Linked DNA regions of Homo sapiens: regions 1, 2 and 4 are each linked to region 3. The links come from fine-mapping of genetic effects on gene expression. A gene starts in region 3. Each other region holds a variant in brackets. All regions are shown on one strand. Distances are from middle to middle. Region 1 has its middle 46 kb from the start of DPY19L2. Region 2 overlaps SRGAP1 (SLIT-ROBO Rho GTPase activating protein 1). Region 3 holds the start of DPY19L2 (dpy-19 like 2). Region 4 overlaps LINC03056 (long intergenic non-protein coding RNA 3056).

What was found. PIP is the estimated chance that this variant, and not a neighbour inherited with it, causes the effect.
Region 1: its variant is fine-mapped to the expression of DPY19L2 in prefrontal cortex (GTEx, PIP above 0.99).
Region 2: its variant is fine-mapped to the expression of DPY19L2 in testis (GTEx, PIP 0.98).
Region 4: its variant is fine-mapped to the expression of DPY19L2 in gastroesophageal junction (GTEx, PIP above 0.99).

Annotation. Positions count from the first base shown.
Region 1 is chr12:63,712,904-63,715,592 of GRCh38, forward strand. It overlaps the pseudogene LOC100418730. Among named protein-coding and RNA genes, the nearest start is that of DPY19L2, 46 kb to the left of the region's middle. The variant T/A (reference allele first, on the strand shown) is at 1,270.
Region 2 is chr12:63,999,339-64,002,027 of GRCh38, forward strand. All of the region lies in intron 3 of SRGAP1 (SLIT-ROBO Rho GTPase activating protein 1), which reads left to right. The region is part of intron 3 of LOC105369801 (a long non-coding RNA gene); the gene reads right to left. Among named protein-coding and RNA genes, the nearest start is that of SRGAP1, 160 kb to the left of the region's middle. The variant A/G (reference allele first, on the strand shown) is at 1,505.
Region 3 is chr12:63,667,428-63,670,116 of GRCh38, forward strand. DPY19L2 (dpy-19 like 2) reads right to left here and starts at 1,066. Exons shown (of 22, transcript NM_173812.5): 1 at 630-1,066. The coding sequence starts at 966. RefSeq lists enhancers at 963-1,022, 1,472-1,973, 1,974-2,473.
Region 4 is chr12:63,324,115-63,326,803 of GRCh38, forward strand. The region is part of intron 1 of LINC03056 (long intergenic non-protein coding RNA 3056); the gene reads right to left. Among named protein-coding and RNA genes, the nearest start is that of LINC03056, 48 kb to the right of the region's middle. The variant C/A (reference allele first, on the strand shown) is at 1,273.

The DNA.
Region 1 (2,689 bases), 45 kb after region 3:
AAGAGTATCTCAAAAGCTTGTGTAGCTGTAGAAGGATTAAAATTGTGAATTTAGAGGTACAGGCAAACAGATCCAATCCTAAAGGCATTTTTGTTTGGGTGTCCCACACATTAAGCTGTAAATCTGAAACAGGAAACTTGAAATCATTAAGGTCACATATTTATAACATCATATTCAATTAGGTTAGAAAAGTGCAATATCTGTCATCATGTCATAAAAAGATGTGTTTTTCTCTCAGATCTCTTATAAAGAAAAGCTCCCTATATTGTTAAGGATAGGGCTGTTTTCAATCAGTTACAAGGAGCAATTCAATTACTAGATGGTTTAGTGCAGTAACTGACTCAGACTAATTTAATTTCTTTAGGTCTCTAAAGATCAATTGATCTGATTTGTCCCATCCCCAAAGGCTGTTTATGAAAAATTCAGACTTAAATATCTGGAAATGAAATCCAAAACCTCGGCCAATTTCACACTACTTAGGTCATCTTGCAAACTTTCAGCTAGTCATATAAGAGTGCTGTCTTTGCCCTCAGACCATTGAAAGCTACTTAGCTTCATGTACATGTGAGTGCTCCCACATCAGGATGCTTATCCAATAAGTGGAAAATGTGGCCACATGCATTATCAAATCTGCCATTCTAAAGAGCAGTCAGACTGAGTACCTCCTATCTTGTAAACCAATGTGCAACTACAAGGCTATTTTTACTCTAGGAGTAGTTTATTAAGACTATGAAACATAGAGTTACATGGGATAAAAGTTGTTAGATGAAATGCTCATATAACAAGATGAAGAACTTGTAATTATTTTACATTTTTAGATTTATAAAATGCTGTCATAAATGCCAGCTTATTTGATTCTCAGAATAAACCTCTGAGGTGAGCAGGGTTATTTTTTCCATTTTCTAGATGAGTGTACAGACTCAGAAGTCTGGTGACTTCTCCAGGATCACTCACCCAGGAAGAGGCAGAGGTGAGACTCTAAGCCCTAACTTTTTTTTTCTCCCAATATATCATGCGTACCCCCATGGTCTGAGACAGAAAATATGACACACACTATAAAAACAGATCACTATCACCCCACTGCATCATTGTCTCCATTCTTATTTAATACCTGAATAAAACTGAGAAAAAGTTCACTTATAACAATCCCAACTGCATAAACCCGGTCTGCAGCAGGGCTTCTGGCCCTCAGAAACAGGAAATAAAGTCATGCCTAAATGAAGTTGCCTTTTGCAAGTGGACTCCTTTGTTGCCCACACTGCTGGTACC[T/A]CATTCTCAGTGATTTGTATCCCACCTAACTTGAGAGTTACCACTTGCCTTCTCTCTGCCCTTTGCAATGGATTTTCAATCACAAGCTCAAGTTTCTTTTCCTGATCCCAACACTTCCAACCAACTTGTCCAGCTCTCCAACTATTTAATCTTTCTTTTCTGCTCAAATCCCATAGTTCCTGGCCAACATTCAGCCTCTCCTGCTTGCTCCTCTGCTTCCCCACTGAGCCTCTAAGTCTGTTCCCCTAAATCAAACCTCCGCCTCACATTCTGCCATTTGGGAAGGCTTAGGAAGGCTGAGACAGAGGTTGTTAAAATATGTAATTATCTTTTAATTTGAGTTGCCAAGATAGATTAGACAGAAGTGCTGAGGTCAGCAGATGTGGCTATGTAGGTAACAAAGAGTGCAGCAGAAATGTGCAGAAGTTAGTAGGGAAATTACACAGATGTAGAGATAAGAAAATCAGTGGTTCTGGTGGCTAGGGAACTTCCCTGGTCAATCAAGACATTGGGCCACATAAAAGAATTAGTGTGTTTAAGAAGTAAAAATAATCAATTAGGTTTAAAAATCTTCTCTTTGAAAAACAATTTTTGACATTCATACTGGGCAAAATATGTATCTCCATATAGTCATTACTCATCACCTCAATGGTCTCAAACTGCATGAACCATTTTAATTGAATAAAAAGTAGGGTACGTTACAGGCACATGATTTCACTTGTCTTCTTAGACGCCTGATGTCTCTCCTATTAAATAAAAGCAGTCTACTATATTGGTAAAATTATGTGACCTTGAATTAAATTACATCTCCTTGTTTTAAAATTCCCCAACTACCCTTACACTCTTTGTGTTAGCAAATATATCTACTTGGGAAGGTAAAAAGCTACCAAGGTTCTATTTCTCTACAGACTGCCACTCATTGAGACATGAAGCTTAAAAATGTAAAGAGGACTAAGTCTTTAATAACAACAAAGCCCTATTTTTTATAGTAGAATAAATGTCCTGACCAAAGAAACTATTTCACTCAGAAATTAAGCATATAATAGATCCAGTCACAGTAGCTGTCAGACTTAGGCAGTTGCATATGTACAAGGAATAGGGGCAGAGAATAGAAGACTATATATAGTAAGGTTATGATTCTCTGGTGTCGAAAGGAGTGTGTTGTTACAAACTCCCTCTTCTCTTGATCTTATCTGAACAAGAAAGTAAACAGAAAATTCTCATTACCTCTCAAGGTCAGTGAGCCTGGAGGAATCCCAGAATCCTTTGGCAAAAGGATTGCTATCTATTTTCAGCTTCGTTATCTGGAGAAAGAATGGGTACAAAACAGTATCATTTCTGAGGTCAAGGAAGTAAAATCATAAATAGTTTGTTCATTCTCCATAGCACACCAAGAATATCTTAATGTTTCTCAGTGTCG
Region 2 (2,689 bases), 330 kb after region 3:
CGATAGTGACGTGATCCACTTTCAGTGTGCCTGGAGTGTGGAGAGTGGATTGAAAGATAATAAGACAGAAAGTCTCAGTTTGCAGCTCTTGGAACTAATCCAGATGAGAGATGAGGATGCTCTTCCTTGGTTGTGGCAGTAGAAACAGAGGAGCAGGTGGATTCGAGTGGTGTGTTGGAGATAGAATATGTAGGCCTGGGTAATTGATTGGCTGGGTGGGAGAGAAGAGAGATGTAGAGGGAGCAGTCAGAGGTGACACCCAGGCTTGGGCAGTTGTCAGGGTGATAGGCGTCATATGAGAGGAGAAGGCTCAGGACACAGAGGCTGTGATGGGAACGGGATTATGGAAAACACGGTGTTTACTTTTGGGTGTGCCTATGGATAACTGGGTAGAGAAGCCCCATAAGCAGACCAAGAACTTCAGGAGAGAGATCAAGACTAGAGAGTTGGGAATCTTCCACCTTTGGCAGGTCATTAAAATCTTGGGAGTAGCTGAGATAAACCAGGGAGAACATATAGGGTGAGGAGGGAAGAGTAAGAAAAACTCGCAGCAAAACTAGGAATTAAAGGATAAGAAGAAGAACTGTATCCTATAAAATGACTGAGAAGGATCAGCCAGAGAGGTGAGAAGAAACGCAGGTCAGTGAGGTGTCCGGAAAGCTAAGTGAAGAAAATGCTGCCAGGAGGGAGTGGTCAATATGCAAAGGTCCATGATGTCCACTGAACTGAGCAGCAAAGGGTCATTGGTTATCTCTGTAAGAGCAGTCTGGGCAGAATGGCAGATGTTGAGTGAGCAAGTTAGGACAGCAAATGTGGACAGTATTGTCTAGAAATTTGCCTGTGAAGAGGAGGAAAGATAAGGGAAGTATTTGAAGAAGAACATTGGTCAAGAAAGGTAGGGGTGTGTGTGTGTGTGTGTGTGTGTGTGTGTGTGTGTAAAAAAAAAAAACCAGGATGTTAGGACAAACTAGTTTAAAATGTGGAGGAGGGCCAGGCCTGGTGGCTCATGCCTGTAATCCCAGTGCTTTGGGAGGCTGAAGTGGGAGGATCACTTGAAACCAGGAGTTCAAGACCAGCGTGGGCAACATAGCAAGACATGATTTCTGAAGAAAAAATATTTAAAAGTTAGCCAGCCATGACGATGTGCACCTCTACTCCCAACTACTTAGGAGCCTGAAGTGGGAGGATTGCTTGAGCCCAGGCATTTAAGGCTACAGTAAGCAATGAATACACCACTGCAGTCTGGCCTGGGCATCAGAGTGACACCCTGTCTAAAAAAATCCAAAAATAATATGTTGAGGAAAAGGAGCCACAAAAAGGGAAGCTTGACATGTTAGGAGAGAACAGGTGTAATTGATTGATCCAAGACTCTGCCAAGGGGGCAGGTAATGGGACCCAAAGGACAGGCAGAGGGATTAGCCTCTGGCAAAAGACTGTATTTGGAGATGAAAGAAGAGTTCCTATGGATGCGGGATTCTCTATTCCTGTTTCTTTGTGAAGTTAG[A/G]AGTGATAACATCTCATAAGCAAGAGGAGAAGAAAGAATGGTCTATTGGGAAAATAAGGTTTGAGAAAAAGTAGAAAAGATTTCAACCAACCCTTGGAGGGACCGATAATTAAAAATAAAAGAAATATGATATGAAAAAGAATCCCCACTTGAGAAAATATCACAATATGAAAATAAAATATGAGTTTTCAAACAAACTTGCTGAAAAGACACACATACACATACACACACAAACACGTAGTACTTTCGAGCCTCAAGCTTGCATGACTTCTACCCAGCATTCCATAAAATCATCCTCTTTTCAAAAAGAACACAGATTAGGTCTTATATATAATATTAAATGTCAGAAAACAATGGAGCAAAACCTGCAAGGACAATTGAAGGAAAGTTACAACTCCAAAATTCTAGATACAACCAAGTTGTTATTCATTTTAAAAAGCAACTGAAGAGCAATCTTAAATATGTAGTGTACTTTCCTGAATACACACTTAGTTTGGGTAGATTGTGTGCAAAGTTAGCATTTTCCTTTTATCAACTCCCTGAAGTATTTCTTGCCCACAGTGACTTTGGGCTTGGCCATATGACTTGCTTTGGTCAATGGGACAATGGTAAATGTGAAGCAAGCAGATACTTGAAAAGTGCTTCCAGATTGTGGCCTGCCCTCTTTTGATGTTTTTGGACATGTAACAAGTTATCAAGTCCTAGCTAGCTTGCTGGATGAGGCACAAGACTACATGGAAGGCAACTGAAGCCTCCTAAGTGACAGCCAGCCAAATATTACACATATATTGAGGACATCTTAGATCATCCAATTGCCAGCTGACCCCAGCTGATTGCAAATGCAAGAAAGAACACAGCCAAGCCAGCTCACAACAGAAGAACCTCCCAGCTGGCCCACAGAAAACTGAGCTAAGTAAAGTGTTGCTTAAAGCCACTAAATTTGGATGTTTTGTTCCACAGCAAAAGTTAAATGATACACTAGGTAAAGACCTGTGCCCTCCCCAAAAGGTAGATGAAATCAAAAGATAAAAATAGGTTTTGGGTAAATTGACTAAGTATACTCCACCATGCCTTTCCCACTGAAGGCATTTTTAAAAACACTGAATACCCGCAGCAGTTTAAAAACTGAAAATTAAAAAGTAGCAGGTAGTTTGGGGAAGAAGACCAGATTTTTAAAATTCCGTC
Region 3 (2,689 bases):
ACGATGCCAGTATTCTAAATGCTTGAAGGGCTTATCACATGCCCTTTCCAAGCTGTGACAGAAGAATGTCCCCTGGACCACGGCATCCTATCAATCTCACCTCTGAAGGTGACCCAGCCTCATACTTCACTGAAACAAAGACCATTAGACACCAACACTCCCAACTTCTTTTATTTCCACTTTAACATTTCTCCATATAGTAATCCTCACTTTTCTACTCCCTGCCATCTCAGAAAAGGAATTCTCTCTCCTCTTTTCCACAGTTAGCTTCTCAAATTTGTACCTTTAATTCTACCCCTCCCAAATATTGCAAGACTTGCTCCACTAATTATTTCCTCTCTTGGAATCTTAATCTCATCATCTTCTCTTGATCCTTCCCCTCAGCCTTTAAAACTCCTAGACCTTAAAACACTCTCTGCGATCTGACAGCCCTTCAAACCAATATACTCCCTATCTCTCTCTCTCCCCTGGTTCAATGACAAGATCTTTGGCCAACTTCTTTCTACTCGGACCTTGCTATTATTTCCTACTAGGCACCCACAAACCCTTGCTTGTTAAACTGATCTCCTTCAAGACTCAAGAAAAGCGCCATGCGGCTCCCTCCTAGGGCTCTCCTGCCCTCTCCTCACCGATGCCGAGAGTGGTTCTGCTGGAGAACCGCCGCGCCTGCAGTTCCTGCACCTTTTCCCGGAGCTGCGCCAGGGAATTACGGACGAACTGGAAGGGGCCGAGAAGAAAGGTCTTGGCCACCACCTCTAGCTCCAAGCCTTTTCGCTCTTTCAGACTTTGGATCCTCCCCGGGGAGGACCTCCAGGAGCCCCTTGGCAGTTTCCCGCCGCCTAGGGCCGACTTTTCCATCTCCTCCTCTACCTCCGGCTCCCGGGCGAGGGAGGCCCCGCGCCGCCCCTTAGACTGGCTGCGGCCGGAAGATTGCAGCCGCTTTGAGCTTACTCCTTGTTTTCTCATAATCAAGGAGTATGGTGGAGCTGGGTCAATTTCAGGCACAGCCCAGCCGAGTCAGGCGAGGTCCAGAGAGACCTGACTCGCCTGGCAGCCTCAACGGACTTGTCCCCGCAGCCGTTGCGGACCTCCCGGTCGTCATGGCGACTGTGAAATGTGGGGTGGGGCGCATGCGTTGGAAGCCATTCGCGCGGGCAGTCCCTGAGTGTCCCCTCACGTGCTCCCCAGCGCGAGCAGCACCCCCGCCTCTGCGCTTCCCAGAGCGTGCAGCTTCCGGTGAGGGCAGCCCCACGCACAGCCCCCCACACCCTCCCCAGCGCCTGCAGCCTCCGGTGCGCGCAGGCCCCAAGCCCACATGCGCAGTCCTCACCTTGCGCGCAGCCCCATGTACAGCCCCGGACGGGCTCCCAGCCCCACTGGCGCAGAACCCATCACCGCTTGCCCTTCACGCGCTTCATTGGGAGTGCAGCCCCCACCCCGAGCGCGCAGCTCCACGCAGCCTCTCCACACTCTCCCCAGCGCCTGCAGCACCCCCAGTGCGCACAGCTCTGCCAGTCGCTTCCCCGGGCGCCGCCCCTGCACCACTTCGGCCCATAACCTTGCGGCGACTGTCTGAAGAACTTCCCGTGGTTTCATTCTTTTCTTCGGGTTTAGTCTTAGCTGTGACATTTTAACCAAAAGATTACACGTTAATTAACGAGGTATTAAAGGGAAAGATCTCAGCTGAAAGAAATGACTGTAGGAAGTGTGTCAGGGAAGCCAACGGAACCGCCGGCCCGCCGGCGGTGCGCCCGGCATTAGGAACGTCTCTACTCCCCTACGATCGCTGAGGTATCGGACAGTCAGTGCCCGTTGCCAACGCAGAGGGAACGGGCCGAGACTGCGGGCAACAAGTGGCAGAGCCGGCGTGAGTCCGGTGGGTCTGATCCCAGAGCCTCAGGTTGACGCCACTTCCTTGGCACGGGACAGCGTTTACTGAATCTTAGAGCAAAATGCTTTTCCAATAAGGTTCCTCAGAAGTCATCAGCCCTAGGAGCGGTGTGCTCAAGCGCTTTCAGCACCAGCCAGGACCAACTAAGAGGGGAGCGCTTAGCTCCCAGTCACCGCACAGCCCTACAAGAGGCCAAAGCGGCTGGCACAGATGCACTGGGGCCACTGACATTTTCCATGTCCTCTGTCACGGGCCACATGCTGGAGCCCACACCGCTTCACTTCCCATCTGTTTGATGATGGATCACATTGAACTCCCATACCCTAACTGACCAATCTAAAGCCTGGCTCATTGTGGCCAGGTTAATTTTTCCTGATGCAACACAGCACAAAAATGTTCGTGGCCCACAAATCAAGTCCTAGGCTTGCTCACCAATGCCTTCAATATTTGCCCAATATACCTTTTCAACTTTAATTTCCCACTTCCTCGGGCACAAAATCTTCCATCTCAGTCATTTCAGGTAAAGTCCACAACCTGAGACATCATAACTGCTGAATTCCTTTATTCATGTGGAAAAGCCATCCCTTGGCTTTTGCATCCTTTTCTCCCTGCCCATCTGAATGCTGTCACCTTCCAAGCCCCAGCCCATTTCTCCAGCCCATATTAATTATGCTTTTTCTGAAGGTCTAGAGCACTTAACTGACAGTACTATTTATCTTCTCACTCAGTTAAATTCAGTAAGTGCTACTACTGCTCATTTTTTGTTTTGGGAGATTTTTTTCAAGCAGCATTTCTGCA
Region 4 (2,689 bases), 340 kb before region 3:
ACCAGTCTGTGGCCTATTAGAAACTGGGCTGCACAGCAGGAGGTGAGCAGCAGGCATGTGAGCACTATTGCTTGAGCAGCACCTCCTGTCTGATCAGTGGTGGCATTAGATTCTCATAGGAGCAAGAACCCTATTGTGAATTGCTCATGCAAGGGATCTAGGTTGCCCACTCCTTAAGATAATCTAATGCCTGATGATCCGAAGTGGAAAAATTTCATTCTGAAACCAATCCGCCACTCCCTGGGTCATACAATATTCTCTCTCTCTTTTTCTCTCTTTTAGAGACAGGGTCTTGCTCTGTCACCCAGCCTGGAGTGCAGTGGTATGTTCATAGCTCCCCACAGCCTCAGACTTCTGGCCTCAAGCAATCCTCCTGCTTCAGCCTCCTAAATTGTTGGGATTACAGGTGTGATTCACCACACTTAGCTTATGATAGTCTTTATAAATAAACTGGTAAATGTAAGTAAAGTGCTTTTTAGAGTTTTGTGAACTGTTCTGGGAAATTACTGAACCTGAGGAGGGGGTCGTGAGAACAGCTGATTTACAGCCAGGGAGTCACAGGTACTAATGACTCAGACTTGTGATTCGCATCTGAGGTGGGGGCAGTTTTGTGGGATGGAGCTCGTAATCTGTGGGTCTATGCTGACTAGGAGTAGCTGGTATCAAAATTGAATTTCTGTAGCATACCCAATTGTTTGGGAGAGTTGGAGAATTTGTTGGTGTGGGCAAAAGACATTTATTTGGTATCAGAAGTGCTGCTAGTAAAAAAATAAAAAAAAAAGTTTAGTATTATTGTATCCATATAGAAGAAATACTATACAATGGAGCTACTGCATGTAATGGAAGTACTGAACATGTTTTTGCAACTCCATCTTCAGGGCTAACACATTGAAAGCTTGTAATCAGCCATGGTAGGAGTATTTACACTAGAAAAATCCACAACTGCTACAACTAAGGGTTTAGGTTTTTGAGGGTTTACCAGCATAACACTGCATACCAACCTTGCCAGATTACTGGATATTCTTTTAATAGAATATTGGAGCCTCCAGGGATTATCTGAACCAATAGGATATGTACCTTGGTCTTTGAGGAGGATTTTTTCAAATCTGTAGAAATTGAAATGAACTTGTCCAGAACTGATGGCAATGCAAATGATTCTTGTTTGTGGACATGTAAATTTCCCCTGTCCAGTATAGAGACAGCCCTTCTATCTGTAAAAGTCTTGGGGTCCATTTGCAAGATCATTTCAATATTCGTGATCCATAAATATAT[C/A]TATTCTTTCAATTCTCCTGTGAACCATTCGTAACATCTTTTCTGATTCTCTCATTTCATTAATAAAGTCTTTGACATGTGTTCATTTTACATTGGTAAGAAGTTTTAGCTTTTTTTGAAAATTATCTTTAACAGCAAACTTTTTTGTCTGAAACACATGACTGACTTTAAATCTTCTTGCTAAGAATGTCTGCCTTATTTCCATAAGATTATTCAAACCCCAAGTTTCTGCACTACCCAGTTTCCCTGATAGAATTAAATACTCTGTATCCAGAATATAGTCCTTTTCTTTCAGGTGGTATTATGGCATAACTCAACAGATTTTGCTGCCCTAGTTCTCTTCTAAGAAGTGAAACTTCCAAGAAACTGTAGTTTTGCAGGAGTGACATGATGGGATCCTGTGCAAGTAGCCAGGATTACAGATTGAGGGAGCACTGGGAATCTTGTCTTTGATCCCAATAAAAGACTCACAGAAGGGAAGGGAGCCCTGATTTATTTTAATTAAATTTCATGCTAACTGGAGAGACTAATCATGATCACATTACCCATAGAATCTCGTGGGAAAGGATGTGCTAACAATGGACTTACTGGCTCCTTTCCCAATGCTGCTTATTAACCATAATAGTAACTCTTTCAAATTCCTTTTCCCTGGAAAATTGGCAAAAGTCTCATTCTGATATTGCTTTTGCCTCTACTTTTAATTATTAAATTTTAGTTAATATCCTCTAGATCAGGCAATGGGATCTGATAATTACTGCACCAAGAACTATTTTCAAAAGGCCTGTTCCTTCTTGAGCTGTTTTATTTAACAATCATATGAACTTAAATGGGTGCTATATTTTATTTGGATCAATTCTGCAAACATTAAATTAAAAATATAGCAATCATACACTACTATTTTTCTTAATGTTCACTTCAACATTAGGTATATATTTTTGGTTTTTGGTTTTTTAGCAATATTAAGAAAATAGAAATTTATCTAGTAACACTTGGCAATTGACACTCAACTAAATTTGGAACTGTGAGTATGTTTTGCCTTTGACATCTGGCTCACTTAATTTCCCCTCCATGTGTTCTTTTAATTTAATATTTCAGGAGTTACTGTGCTCCCTAGAGAAGTCAGACTAAATGGTTTTTATTAATATGGTTTTATAAAGCCTAAAAATGTGTTTTATTTGCCCATAGCAGTTATAAATCAGGACCTGAAATTCATTGCAGTTTCCAAAATTGTATATATCTGGTAGTCCAGAGAGGGATAATTGTATTTGTTATATGAGAATTGCTTAGGGGAGTTCTCAGTAGGGCCACTGAAATTATTTTTCAGATAAAATATTTAATCTTTCTTGCCATTTAACCAAATGACTGATTAAACTCCCTTCTGCAACATATAATGTCATGAAACATAGACAAACCCAAT